Linked DNA regions of Homo sapiens. The protein of the gene in region 2 interacts with the protein of the main gene of each other region in a pairwise test. Each region holds a gene or a part of one and is shown on either strand. Other genes may lie near its edges.

Evidence for each region.
Region 1: the proteins of TNPO2 (region 2) and EXOC5 interact in binary tests that used the Homo sapiens proteins (3 or more experiments, as listed by UniProt).
Region 3: the proteins of TNPO2 (region 2) and GCH1 interact in binary tests that used the Homo sapiens proteins (3 or more experiments, as listed by UniProt).

The regions. Positions count from the first base shown.
Region 1 is NC_000014.9:57,230,810-57,234,462, reverse strand, and holds part of EXOC5 (exocyst complex component 5), read left to right. Parts: intron 1-430; coding exon 431-475; intron 476-579; coding exon 580-720; intron 721-1,713; coding exon 1,714-1,796; intron 1,797-2,747; coding exon 2,748-2,957; intron 2,958-3,653. UniProt on the Homo sapiens protein: Component of the exocyst complex involved in the docking of exocytic vesicles with fusion sites on the plasma membrane.
Region 2 is NC_000019.10:12,710,433-12,714,085, forward strand, and holds part of TNPO2 (transportin-2), read right to left. Parts: intron 1,182-3,653; coding exon 1,121-1,181; intron 1,030-1,120; coding exon 864-1,029; intron 342-863; coding exon 189-341; intron 1-188. UniProt on the Homo sapiens protein: Probably functions in nuclear protein import as nuclear transport receptor. Serves as receptor for nuclear localization signals (NLS) in cargo substrates.
Region 3 is NC_000014.9:54,843,827-54,847,479, reverse strand, and holds part of GCH1 (GTP cyclohydrolase 1), read left to right. Parts: intron 1-349; coding exon 350-381; intron 382-1,627; coding exon 1,628-1,712; intron 1,713-3,336; coding exon 3,337-3,463; 3' UTR 3,464-3,610; coding exon of another isoform or gene 3,611-3,653. UniProt on the Homo sapiens protein: Positively regulates nitric oxide synthesis in umbilical vein endothelial cells (HUVECs). May be involved in dopamine synthesis. May modify pain sensitivity and persistence.

The DNA.
Region 1 (3,653 bases), on a different chromosome or scaffold from region 2:
AACACATACATATATATATGTAAAACCTTTTCCCAAGACCTTGACTCTCTGTGTATGTGTGTGTTTGTGTGTATGTGTGTGGGTGGGTGTGAGTGGGTGTGTTTTGGAGTTGAAGGAGATGGCTAGATGATCATAGGACAAAAATTACTCTAAAGAACTCAGTTACATACTTCATCTTTCTTGTTTTAGTCTAAAGTTCAACAAGGATATGTACCAACTGATAAATTTTATCATAGAAAGTGACTAGGGAGACGATACCTTTATCAAGTTACTGGTTTTCTGCAGTTAATTTTATTTAAGTCCAACAGGTGTTGCTATTGGCCATTTACTGGTAAATAGTCATAGCTTTATGACATATAACACTTCTTTTTTTGAAATAATAATTATTATAATTGAATCAGAATAATAACAATGTGTTTCTTCCTTGTAGGGTTATTCCCATTGTGTTGATGTTTATATAAAGCAGTGCCAGGAGGTAACATAACAGTACACTTTGTTGGATATTATTTTATGCTAATTGTTGTTTTAAAATCATGTAGAAATTATATGTTCACTGTATAAAATGTCTCTGCTGTTTAGGGTGCTTATTTGAGAAATGATATATTTGAAGACGCTGGAATACTCTGTCAAAGAGTGAACAAACAAGTTGGAGATATCTTCAGTAATCCAGAAACAGTCCTGGCTAAACTTATTCAAAATGTATTTGAAATCAAACTACAGGTAATTTTAAATAGTAACAAATTAAATAGTTCTTAAAGCAATATGTAATTTTTTCCCTATATTTTAAAAGTATTTTTAAAATTTAGTTTACTTATGTAATGACCTTAGAAATAGTAATCTAGTTAAGGAGAAAGGAATCCTCATGCTTTTTAAAAAATGTTTTGTATTCACCAAGAAGAAAGTGCTAATCAATAAGTATCATCAGAGAACATGCTTGAAATTTGTGTAGTATTCGTAGTAGTAGTATAATATATTGTGGTAAGATAGCCTTGAAGATTTTTCTTTTTTTTTGGTCCCTGCCTTCACCAATAGATGTCATTTGTGAAACTGAACAAGAATTACAAGAGCAGTCTGTAGAATTTTTAATAATATGGTACTAACCTGAAAAGGGAAAACACAGAAATTTAATTTACCCCCATATCACTGTACTTTCAGATAACATTTCCTAAGCTGTTTACAACTGGATTAAACAACATTCAATAAATGTTTGCTTTTTTTTTTTTTTAACACAATTCAGGAATTTTGATAGTATTGTCATTCTCTAGAAGTGGGGATGTAATGTACAGCATTTCACACATTTACTGTCTAAGAAACCCTGTTTTGGAGTAATGCCTATAGACATCTGAAGGAACACTAGTGTTACCTGGAACTCAGTTTGGGAGATGCTGCCTTAAGGAATTGACTCTATTGTTTGTACTCTCAGTTTTGTTTTTTTGATGCACCTCACAGAGCAGAATAGGCCAATTTAACAGAAAAGGTATTATTCCTAAGACTGATAAAGATCCTCTACAGGTAAATATGAGAAGTGGTAAAATGTAAAAACCTGTTTTAAAATATTTTATGATTGGTTTGTTTTCTGTAATTGCCTTTTTGATTGGATTGTAAGTCAGAAAGGTTCAAAACTGTGGAGTGAATTTTAAAAGAAAAATATCTTGAGAAGTTGTAGAATTTAATATTTACCTAATTAACAGAATGTTAACCTTTTTCTTTTAGAGTTTTGTGAAAGAGCAGTTAGAAGAATGTAGGAAGTCCGATGCAGAGCAATATCTCAAAAATCTCTATGATCTGTATACAAGGTAAATTTTTAATGATTAGAAAATAATAGATAACAGATTTTTTAAATTTTTTTGATAAAAACAAGGAAGTATTCAGGTATTTTTGAATAAGTTTGTCACCAGTTTACCTTTTAGCATTAAATGCTTAGCTGTATAGACTAGTTATATTGTACAAGACTGTATTGTACAACATTCTTAATACATTAACGTCAGGAATTGGATGTTATGCTTTATTTTTTCTCTAAGCATTAGTGTAATTACATTTATCTGCAGTCAAAACTTTAGAAACTGCAAAAGGAAGTGATGTAATCTTAACAAATGACAATTTCAGCTCTAAATCTTCTGTAGGAATTTGTCTTGTGCTTTTGTAAATGTCAGTGTTACTCTTAGAGATTGTCTCAGAAGCTTCATATGGAGTCTTGTGGGGTTTTTTTTTTCCTTGACTTTTCCCAACCCTATTACTCTTCTTCAGTGTCTTCATTTTGGGAGAAGGTTTTTCCAAAGTTACCGTAATGAGGAAGTCCATCTCAACAACAACACTGTTATGACCCTATCTTCAGCAATGGGAAATAGAAAATTAGAGGGAAAGTCCACAAGGACAAAACAAAAGAGGGTGAACAGACAGTAGATCTTTCAGTACTCTGTTTTGGGTCCCATGTGATGAATGGCATTAGACATACTTGAGGCCAATCTGCCACTGTCGCCATTTCTGGACTAGTTAATTGCCTCACAAGTTCTTTTCCTAGGAATTTATAACAGTTCTCAAAACCGTAAAGTTGTTCGTAATATTTCACTGTATTTATATGTAACCCTGTAGAGTTGATCTCTGCATCATAAGTACTCTCCCAGAGTTTAAGAAATGGTGGCTTAACATAAGTCATGAAAGTCACGTTGTAAAAATTTGTATTCCTTAATATTGTTACTATACCTAAAATGTATATTAATCTTTTTCTCCCCCTTTTTCATGAAAAGAACCACCAATCTTTCCAGCAAGCTGATGGAGTTTAATTTAGGTACTGATAAACAGACTTTCTTGTCTAAGCTTATCAAATCCATTTTCATTTCCTATTTGGAGAACTATATTGAGGTGGAGACTGGATATTTGAAAAGCAGAAGTGCTATGATCCTACAGCGCTATTATGATTCGAAAAACCATCAAAAGAGATCCATTGGCACAGGAGGGTGAGTATTTTTGTTAAATACTTCTGTTAAAACTGAAGACATTAATAACTTCATTATATTTGGGCAAATTATCAAATGTTGACTATCATTAGAATTTTCTGTGAAGAGTTCTTTTAATCCAGATTGTTATATTATTGATCAAATCTTGTTCTTAAACCACATGTTGAAATGACCTAACATAACATGATTGAAATGTAAGCCGGGCGTGGTAACTCACTCCTGTAATCGCAGCACTTTGGGAGGCCGAGATGGGCTGATCACCTGAGGTCTGGAGTTCGAGACCAGCCTGGCCAACGTGGTGAAACCCCATCTCTACTAAAAACACAAAAATTAGCTGGGCGTGGTGGCAGACACCTGTAATCCCAGCCATTAAGGAGGCTGAAGCAGGAGAATCACTTGAACCTGGGAGACGGAGGTTGCAGTGAGCCAAGATTACGCCACTGCACTCCAGCCTGGGCGACACAGCAAGACTCCGTGTCAAAAAAAAAAAAAAAAGTAAAGTAGATATTTGTCAATTAAAAAATAATGTTTTAAAACTATCGAGCAGAACACTAGTAATATAAAAAGTTCCATAGTTTCTTTCATTTTTTTTTTTCTCGATAGAATAAGTTCCAGGTTATTGACCAGGAAACGCATCTTTTTTTTGTTACTGTTGCAGGTGTGAAAAAAATAGAAAATAGTTTGTAGTTTAAGTAC
Region 2 (3,653 bases):
GCCTTGCACTGTGGGGCTCCAGGGGTTCCTTTCAGGCCCAGGAACCAAGGGGAGAATTGAGATCTCAGAGCTGTTTGGAGTGGGGTGAGTAGGCCTCCAGGGAGAACTGAGGCATTGGTGTGGCTAGTAATGTGGGCCAGCCCTACAGTCTCATGCCAGCACAGGGCTCAGAGATCAGGCGCACTCACCCTCAGCAATGGCGCCCAGCACCAGGATGCCCGACTCCTTGACCACCCACTCGGGGTGGAAGAGGAGGCCTTTGAGTAGTGGGAGTAGGTGGGGCAGCAGTTCCTCCCGGAAGACATTGGCGAGGACGTCCAGTGCAGCCGCTGAGCACTTCCCTGGGGAAGGGGGAACAATGGGGAGGCTCAGGGCGGCCCCTCAGGCAGGTGGCCGACCCTCCTTGACTGCACTCCCAGGATCAGAGATCATGCTCAGAATCTTCACGATCAGCTTCTTTTTTTTTGTTTTGTTTTTTTGAGACGGAGTCTCACTTTTTCCGCCCAGGCCGGAGTGCAGTGGCGCTATCTCGGCTCACTGCAAGCTCCGCCTCCTGGGTTCATGCCGTTTTCCTGCCTCAGCCTCCCGAGTAGCTGGGACTACAGGCGCCCGACACCACGCCCGACTAATTTTTTGTATTTTTAGTAGAGACGGGGTTTCACTGTGTTAGCCAGGATGGTGTTGATCTCCTGACCTCGTGATCCGCCCGCCTCAGCCTTCCAAAGTGCTGGGATTACAGGCGTAAGCCACTGCGCCCGGCCACGATCAGCTTCTAATCAGCTTCTGCCTCAGCTTCTAGTCACCTCCCAAGAGGGAGTCCAGGGCTTGCCACCCCACCACCACCCCCAGGCAGGGGCACACACTCAAATTCCAGTCGGACAGAGCATCATCATCATCGTCATCCTCCGCGTCCTCGGAGCCATCAGGCCGCTCAGCCTCGTGGGGCAGTGTGACCGTGCGTGACTTGTGGAAGCGTGGCTTGATGTCCTGCTCACTGTCGGGGACAGCCTCATCCTCCTCCACATCCCCCTGGGGGACAGGCAGACTGTTAAGTACTTTGGGGACCACAGCCGCGACACCCACGCCCATGCCCACCCATGCTGGGTGGGCCCTGCCTGACCTTGAGCAGGATGATGTCAATTTCCGAGTACTTCATCCCATTCACCAAGATGGGGATCAACCTGCACAGAGAGGGACTGTTTATGGGGATGCAGGGGCCGTGGCAAAAGTTGGGGGGAGGCACAGCTTGGGGAGGAGGCAAACAGGTGCCAACAGAGTGACCAGCCCCCCAATCAGCCACAGAGCAGACCCTGCAGAGCATGATGGTACTGCTAGGTGCAAATTGATCCATTTCCCTCTGGGGAATTATCGGAATCTAGTCTCTGCCGCTATGATTAGGATATAAATGATACCACTCCTGCCTCCAGAGAAAGGTTTTTTTTTTTTTTTCTTAAGAAGCAGGGTCTAACCCTGTGGGCGGCAAGCCACCCAGGCACCGAGGCAAGAGACAGAGGACACGAGCTGTTCCAGTATAATAAAATATAAAACAAGAATAGTTATACCAGATATAGATCTTAGATATGATTATATATGAATATCATTAATCATTAGTTTGTAGCAATTACTTTTTATTCCAATATTATGATAATCCTCGCTCTATAATCATAGCCTAGGAAAAACCAGGCCATACAGAGATAGGAGCTGAGGGGACATAGTGAGGTGTGACCAGAAGACAAGAGTGCGAGCCTTCTGTTATGCCCGGACAGGGCCACCAGAGGGCTCCTTGGTCTAGCGGTGACGCCAGCATCTGGGAAGACGCCCGTTACCAGGCGGATCATGGTCCAGCGGTAGCAAAAGGTGTCAAGGAACAACACCCGCTACTTAGCAGACCAGGAAAGTGGGGGAGTCTCCCTTTCCCCGGGGGAGTTTAGAGAAGACTCTGCTCCTCCACCTCTTGTGGAGGGCCTGACATCAGTCAGGTTTGCCCGCAGTTATCCGGAGGCCTAACCGTCTCCCTGAGATGCTGTGCTTCAGTGGTCACACTCCTAGTCTGCCTTCATGTTCCATCCTGTACACCTGGCTCTGCCTTCCAGATAGCAGTAGTAAATTAGTGAAAATACTAATAGTCCCTGATATGCAGAAATAATGGCATACGCTGTCTTTCTCTTTGTCTACTCTCCCTCTCTGCCTCGGCTGCCAGGCAGGGAAGGGCCCCCTGTCCAGTGGACACGTGACCCATGTGACCTTACCTATCATTGGAGGTGACTCACATTCTTTACCCTGCCCCTTCTGCCTTGTATGCAATAAATAACAGCGCAGCCAGACATTTGGGGTCACTACCGGTCTCCGCGCATTGGTGGTAGTGGTCCCCCGGGCCCAGCTGCCTTTTCTATTATCTCTTTGTCTTGTGTCTTTATTTCTACACTCTCTCATCGCCGCACACAGGAAGAGACCCACCGACCCTGTGGGGCTGGTCCCTACGTAACCCTATCACCCAGGCTGGAGTGCACTGGTGCGATCACAGCTCACCACAGCCTCATGCTCCTGGGCTCATGCAATCCTCCTGCCTCAGCCTCCCAAAGTGCTAGGATTATAGGCGTGAGCCATGGCACTCAGCCTGCAGGAAAGCTCTTGACCCAGGCCTGGCCACTCAGTGGATTATAGACCCCTGAATACACTGAAAATCTTGGTACAGTGCCTGGTCCCTAGCACAACATTAAGGCAGGGACATGCGGTCCTATTCCTGGCCACTTTCCTGAGATAGGGCAGAGACTAGCCAGAGTAGGGGAGCAAACAGACTAGGCAGCCAGCCCCTCAGCTGCAGCCCAGAGTTGTAAGTGACAGAGCCTTCATCACCTGCTCATCTAGGTCTCATCACTCCCCAGGAGCCGTCTGCCCAGCCCTAGACTGTTATCAATAATTTGGGGCCGGGCACAGGGGCTCACACCTGTCATTATAGCACTTTGGGAGACCAATGCAGGAGGATTGCCTGAGCCCATAAGTTTGAGACCAATTGGGACAATATAGTGAGACCTCACCTCTAATGAATGATAAATAAATAAATAAATAAATAAATAAATAAATAAACATACAATATGCTGGGCGTGGTGACTCACGCCTGTAATCCTAGCACTTTGGGAGGCCAAAGTGGGCAGAACACAAGGTCAGGAAGCTGAGGCAAGAGAATCGCTTGAACCCGAGGGGCGGAGGTTGCAGTGAGCCGAGATTGTGCCACTGCCCTCCAGCCTGGGCAGCAGAGTGAGACTCCGTCTCAAAAACAGAAATTTCAAAATAATAATAATAATGATCTGGGGGCTGGGTACAGTGGCTCGCACCTGTAATCTCAACACTTTAGGAGACCAAGACAGGAGGACTGCTTGAGGCCAGGGATCCGAGACCAGCCAGAGCAACTTAGCAAGACCTCATCTCTACTAAAACTTAGAAAAGATTAGCTAGGTGTGGTGGGATGTGCCTGTAATCCCAGCTACTTGGGAGGCTGAGGTAGGAGGATTGCTTCAGCTGGGAGGTCAAGGCTGCAGTGAGCCATGATTTTGACACTCCACTCCAGCGTGGATGACAGAGCAAAACCTTGTCTCAAAATAAAAAAGAAAAAAATGATTTGGAGAGAGGCAAGCAATCCAAGTTTGTCAAGG
Region 3 (3,653 bases), on a different chromosome or scaffold from region 2:
TTTCATATATTTCTGCCTGCTTTGTATTCGCTGGCAGCTGATGAGATTGTGCCCACCCAGATTAAGTGTGGGTCTGCCTTTCCCAGCCCACTGACTCAAATGTTAATCTCCTTTGGCAACACCCTCACAGGCATACCCAGGAACAATACTTTGCATCCTTCAATCCAATCAAGTTGACTTTAGACTACATCTCCCTGTGGTACTTGTATCTTTCTGTCATCTTGCCATAAGCTTTATTTCCTCTTGCAGCCCACTTGCTTCAACAATGTCCTTTTTGTTTTATGAGGAAGGCTTATCAATTTTACTTCAAATGATTTGTGATTAACTAAAACAATTCTTTCTTTTCTAGGATTGTAGAAATCTATAGTAGAAGACTACAAGGTAAGCTTTAAAAATCTGTATTAACAGAAAACATTTTTCTTTTTTTTCTTTTTTTAAATTTTTATTTTTGAGACAGAGTCTTGCTCTGTCACCCAGGCTGGAGTGCAGTGGTGCAATCTCGGCTCACTGCAGCCTCAGCCTTCCAAGTAGCTGAGATTATAAGAGTGCATCACCATGCCTTGGCTAATTTTTGTATTTCTAGTAGAGACGGGGTTTCACCATATTGATCAGGCTGGTCTCGAACTTCCGACCTCAGGTGATCTGCCCACCTTGGCCTCCCAAAGTGCTGGGATTACAGGCATGAGCCACTGTGCCTGGCTACAGAAAACATTTTTCCTACACAAAAAGTATTTTTTGTTTTATTACTAGTGCGATAAGTATGACTTATAAAAATGTAAAACCTCTTAGGACTATAAAAAGTCTACTGTTTCAAGCTTCCAGAAGAAATCACTGTTGTATTTGCACATTCCTTCACATTTTCATGCATATACCTGCATTTTCAAATCAATTTATTTGGATTATGTTTAAACAAAAATGGGCTCATTTTATACATAATCAGCCTTGCTTTTTTCCCTGCTTTTTTTCATTTAACAAATCTTAAACATTTTTGCCACATCCATGTAACTATCTCATTCATTCTGGTGGCTGTCTAGAATCCTACCGTATATGCCATGGCTTGGCGTAACCTATACCAGCTCTGATAGATACTGGGGGGTTTCATCAGTTTTCAAATAGATGCAGTGCTGCAATGAATATTCCTGTATGAATTAAAAGACAAGTCATTTTATTCAGGACAGGAACTATATTATTTAGGTTAAATTGTTGGTTTTCAACATTGCTCTAAGCACAATTCAATAATTGGACTGCAGCCCCTTTGTTAACCCTGTTGCAGGCTATTTATTTGCTGCACTACTTTACCTCCATGGAGGTGCTTGGTAACCAGTACTGTGTTGTTCTAACTGCACAGGTATGAGATAATTGCTATTCTAATTCCTTCCCGCAGTGATGCTGGAGGGCTTCAGGGTGTTCTGAGATCTCTTTAGCCCTGTACTTCAGGTGAGGGAGTTGAATCCGGGCCTCTCTGTGGCCCAGTCAGCAGACAAAGCAGTCTGGTAAAAGCTGGTGTGTCTTGGCTCTTAAATCTCACAGAAGTCTGATTTTTAAGATTTCAAATGTTCTAGAGACAGAAAAAGCTTCCAGCTGTTTGTGTCAGACTCTCAAACTGAGCTCCTTATCACATCCACAGTTCAGGAGCGCCTTACAAAACAAATTGCTGTAGCAATCACGGAAGCCTTGCGGCCTGCTGGAGTCGGGGTAGTGGTTGAAGCAACGTAAGTCTGCATCTGCCTTTAGTAACGTCATAATGGTGCACTAGAAGTGATCTTGCTATTTAGTGCTTCTCATATTTTGTAGCACCAGGTGATGCCACACAACTGATATGATAACTGTAGATTTCCATCCCTGAGCCTAAAGCTCTTTTACCACTTTCATTTACTGTTACTGATATAGGAACAGAATATGGGAGAAGTATTTTTTGAGGGTAGGATGGGGCTTGTGGAGGCATAGGGAGTTAAAAGCACAGGTGTAGAGATTTGCATAATCAATAGCCTTTTTTTTTTTTGAGATGGAGCCTCACTCTGTCGCCCAGGCTGGAGTGCAGTGGTGCAATCTCGGCTCACTGCAACCTCCACCTCCCGGGTTCAAGCGATTCTCCTGCCTCAGCCTCCCGAGTAGCTGGGACCACAGGTGTGTGTCACCATGCCCGGCTAATTTTTGTATATTTAATAGAGATGGGGTTTCATCATGTCGGCCAGGCTGGTCTCGAACTCCTGACCTCATGATCCACCCGTCACGGCCTCCCAAAGTGCTAGGATTACAGGCGTGAGCCCCTGCGCCCAGCTCAATCGCCATTTTTTAAAAATGCTCAAGACAGGGTCTTGCTCTCTCACCCAGGCTGGAGTGCAATGGTGTGATCTTGGCTCACTGCAACCTCTGCCTCCCAGGTTCAAGCGATTCTCCTGCCTCAGCCTCCCAAATAGCTGGGATTACAGGTGCCCGCCACCACACCCAGCTAATTTTCGTATTTAGTAGAGATGGGATTTCACCATGTTGGCCAGGCTGGGGATCTCAAACTCCTGACCTCAAGTGATCTGCCCACCTCAGCCTCCCAAAATACTGAGATTACTGGCGTGAGCCACCACGCCAATAGCCATTTTTATGTCTTCTCTTGATTTTATGTCTTCTCTTGATTTCTTCTTTAGCTCTCTGTTGCTCCAAGCCGAGTTTTTCTAATATTTTGTCACACATTTAAAAAATAAAGCCAAGAATTGGTACATTTCTTTAAGTTAGGATGAGTTAAGAGAATTGCAGCTGTTGTGTGGACAAAGTTCATATGTGTTCTGTGACGTGGTGTGAACTCTGTTCTATGTCTGGTATCTAATGTCACCAGGTTGCTCAGACAGGATCTCTGGTCACCATTATCTGAATTCTGCCTGGTGACATCAGTATACTTGAGCATTTATCTGAACACCTAGGCTAGCATAGTGCTGTCTTGGTCCTGAAGGCAGAGCAAGTGAGAATTCTGACTTTCTTTTGATCTAGAAGTTAAGTAACTCTGTAGACCTTTTATATTACTTTCACCCCAGAAGAAAATTCCATTTTTCCCCTTTTTGGATGCTTTAAGGATCAACTACTGATAAAAATAAAAGTTGCAAGACAACTTCAAGAACAAAAAGTTTAGGTTGCTGCAAAGATAATTGCAGTTTTTGCCATTATGTTCAATAGCAAGAACCGCAGTTACTTTTGCATGAACCTAATAGATAACATTTGTGTAAGAAGGGATATTTCGATATACTTGGTAACTGTGAGCTGAGATTTAATCTTTAGGCCTGCTTTTAAAAACCAAACCAGCAGCTGTCTACTCCTTTAAACAACCTGTGTTGCCTTATTTTGTAGACACATGTGTATGGTAATGCGAGGTGTACAGAAAATGAACAGCAAAACTGTGACCAGCACAATGTTGGGTGTGTTCCGGGAGGATCCAAAGACTCGGGAAGAGTTCCTGACTCTCATTAGGAGCTGAGCTTCATTCAGTGTGTGTGCGTTGGTTGCCGATCGTACTGCCAGTAGCATTGTCTGTCTGTCCGGTCTTGTTTGTACATTCCATTTTCAATTGTTACAGATGTGAACTTTATTCCTTGTCACTAATTATATTTAAAATTATTTCTAGGAAGTCAAATAAATATAATAAAGGGTTGAGCCCTCTACTTTCT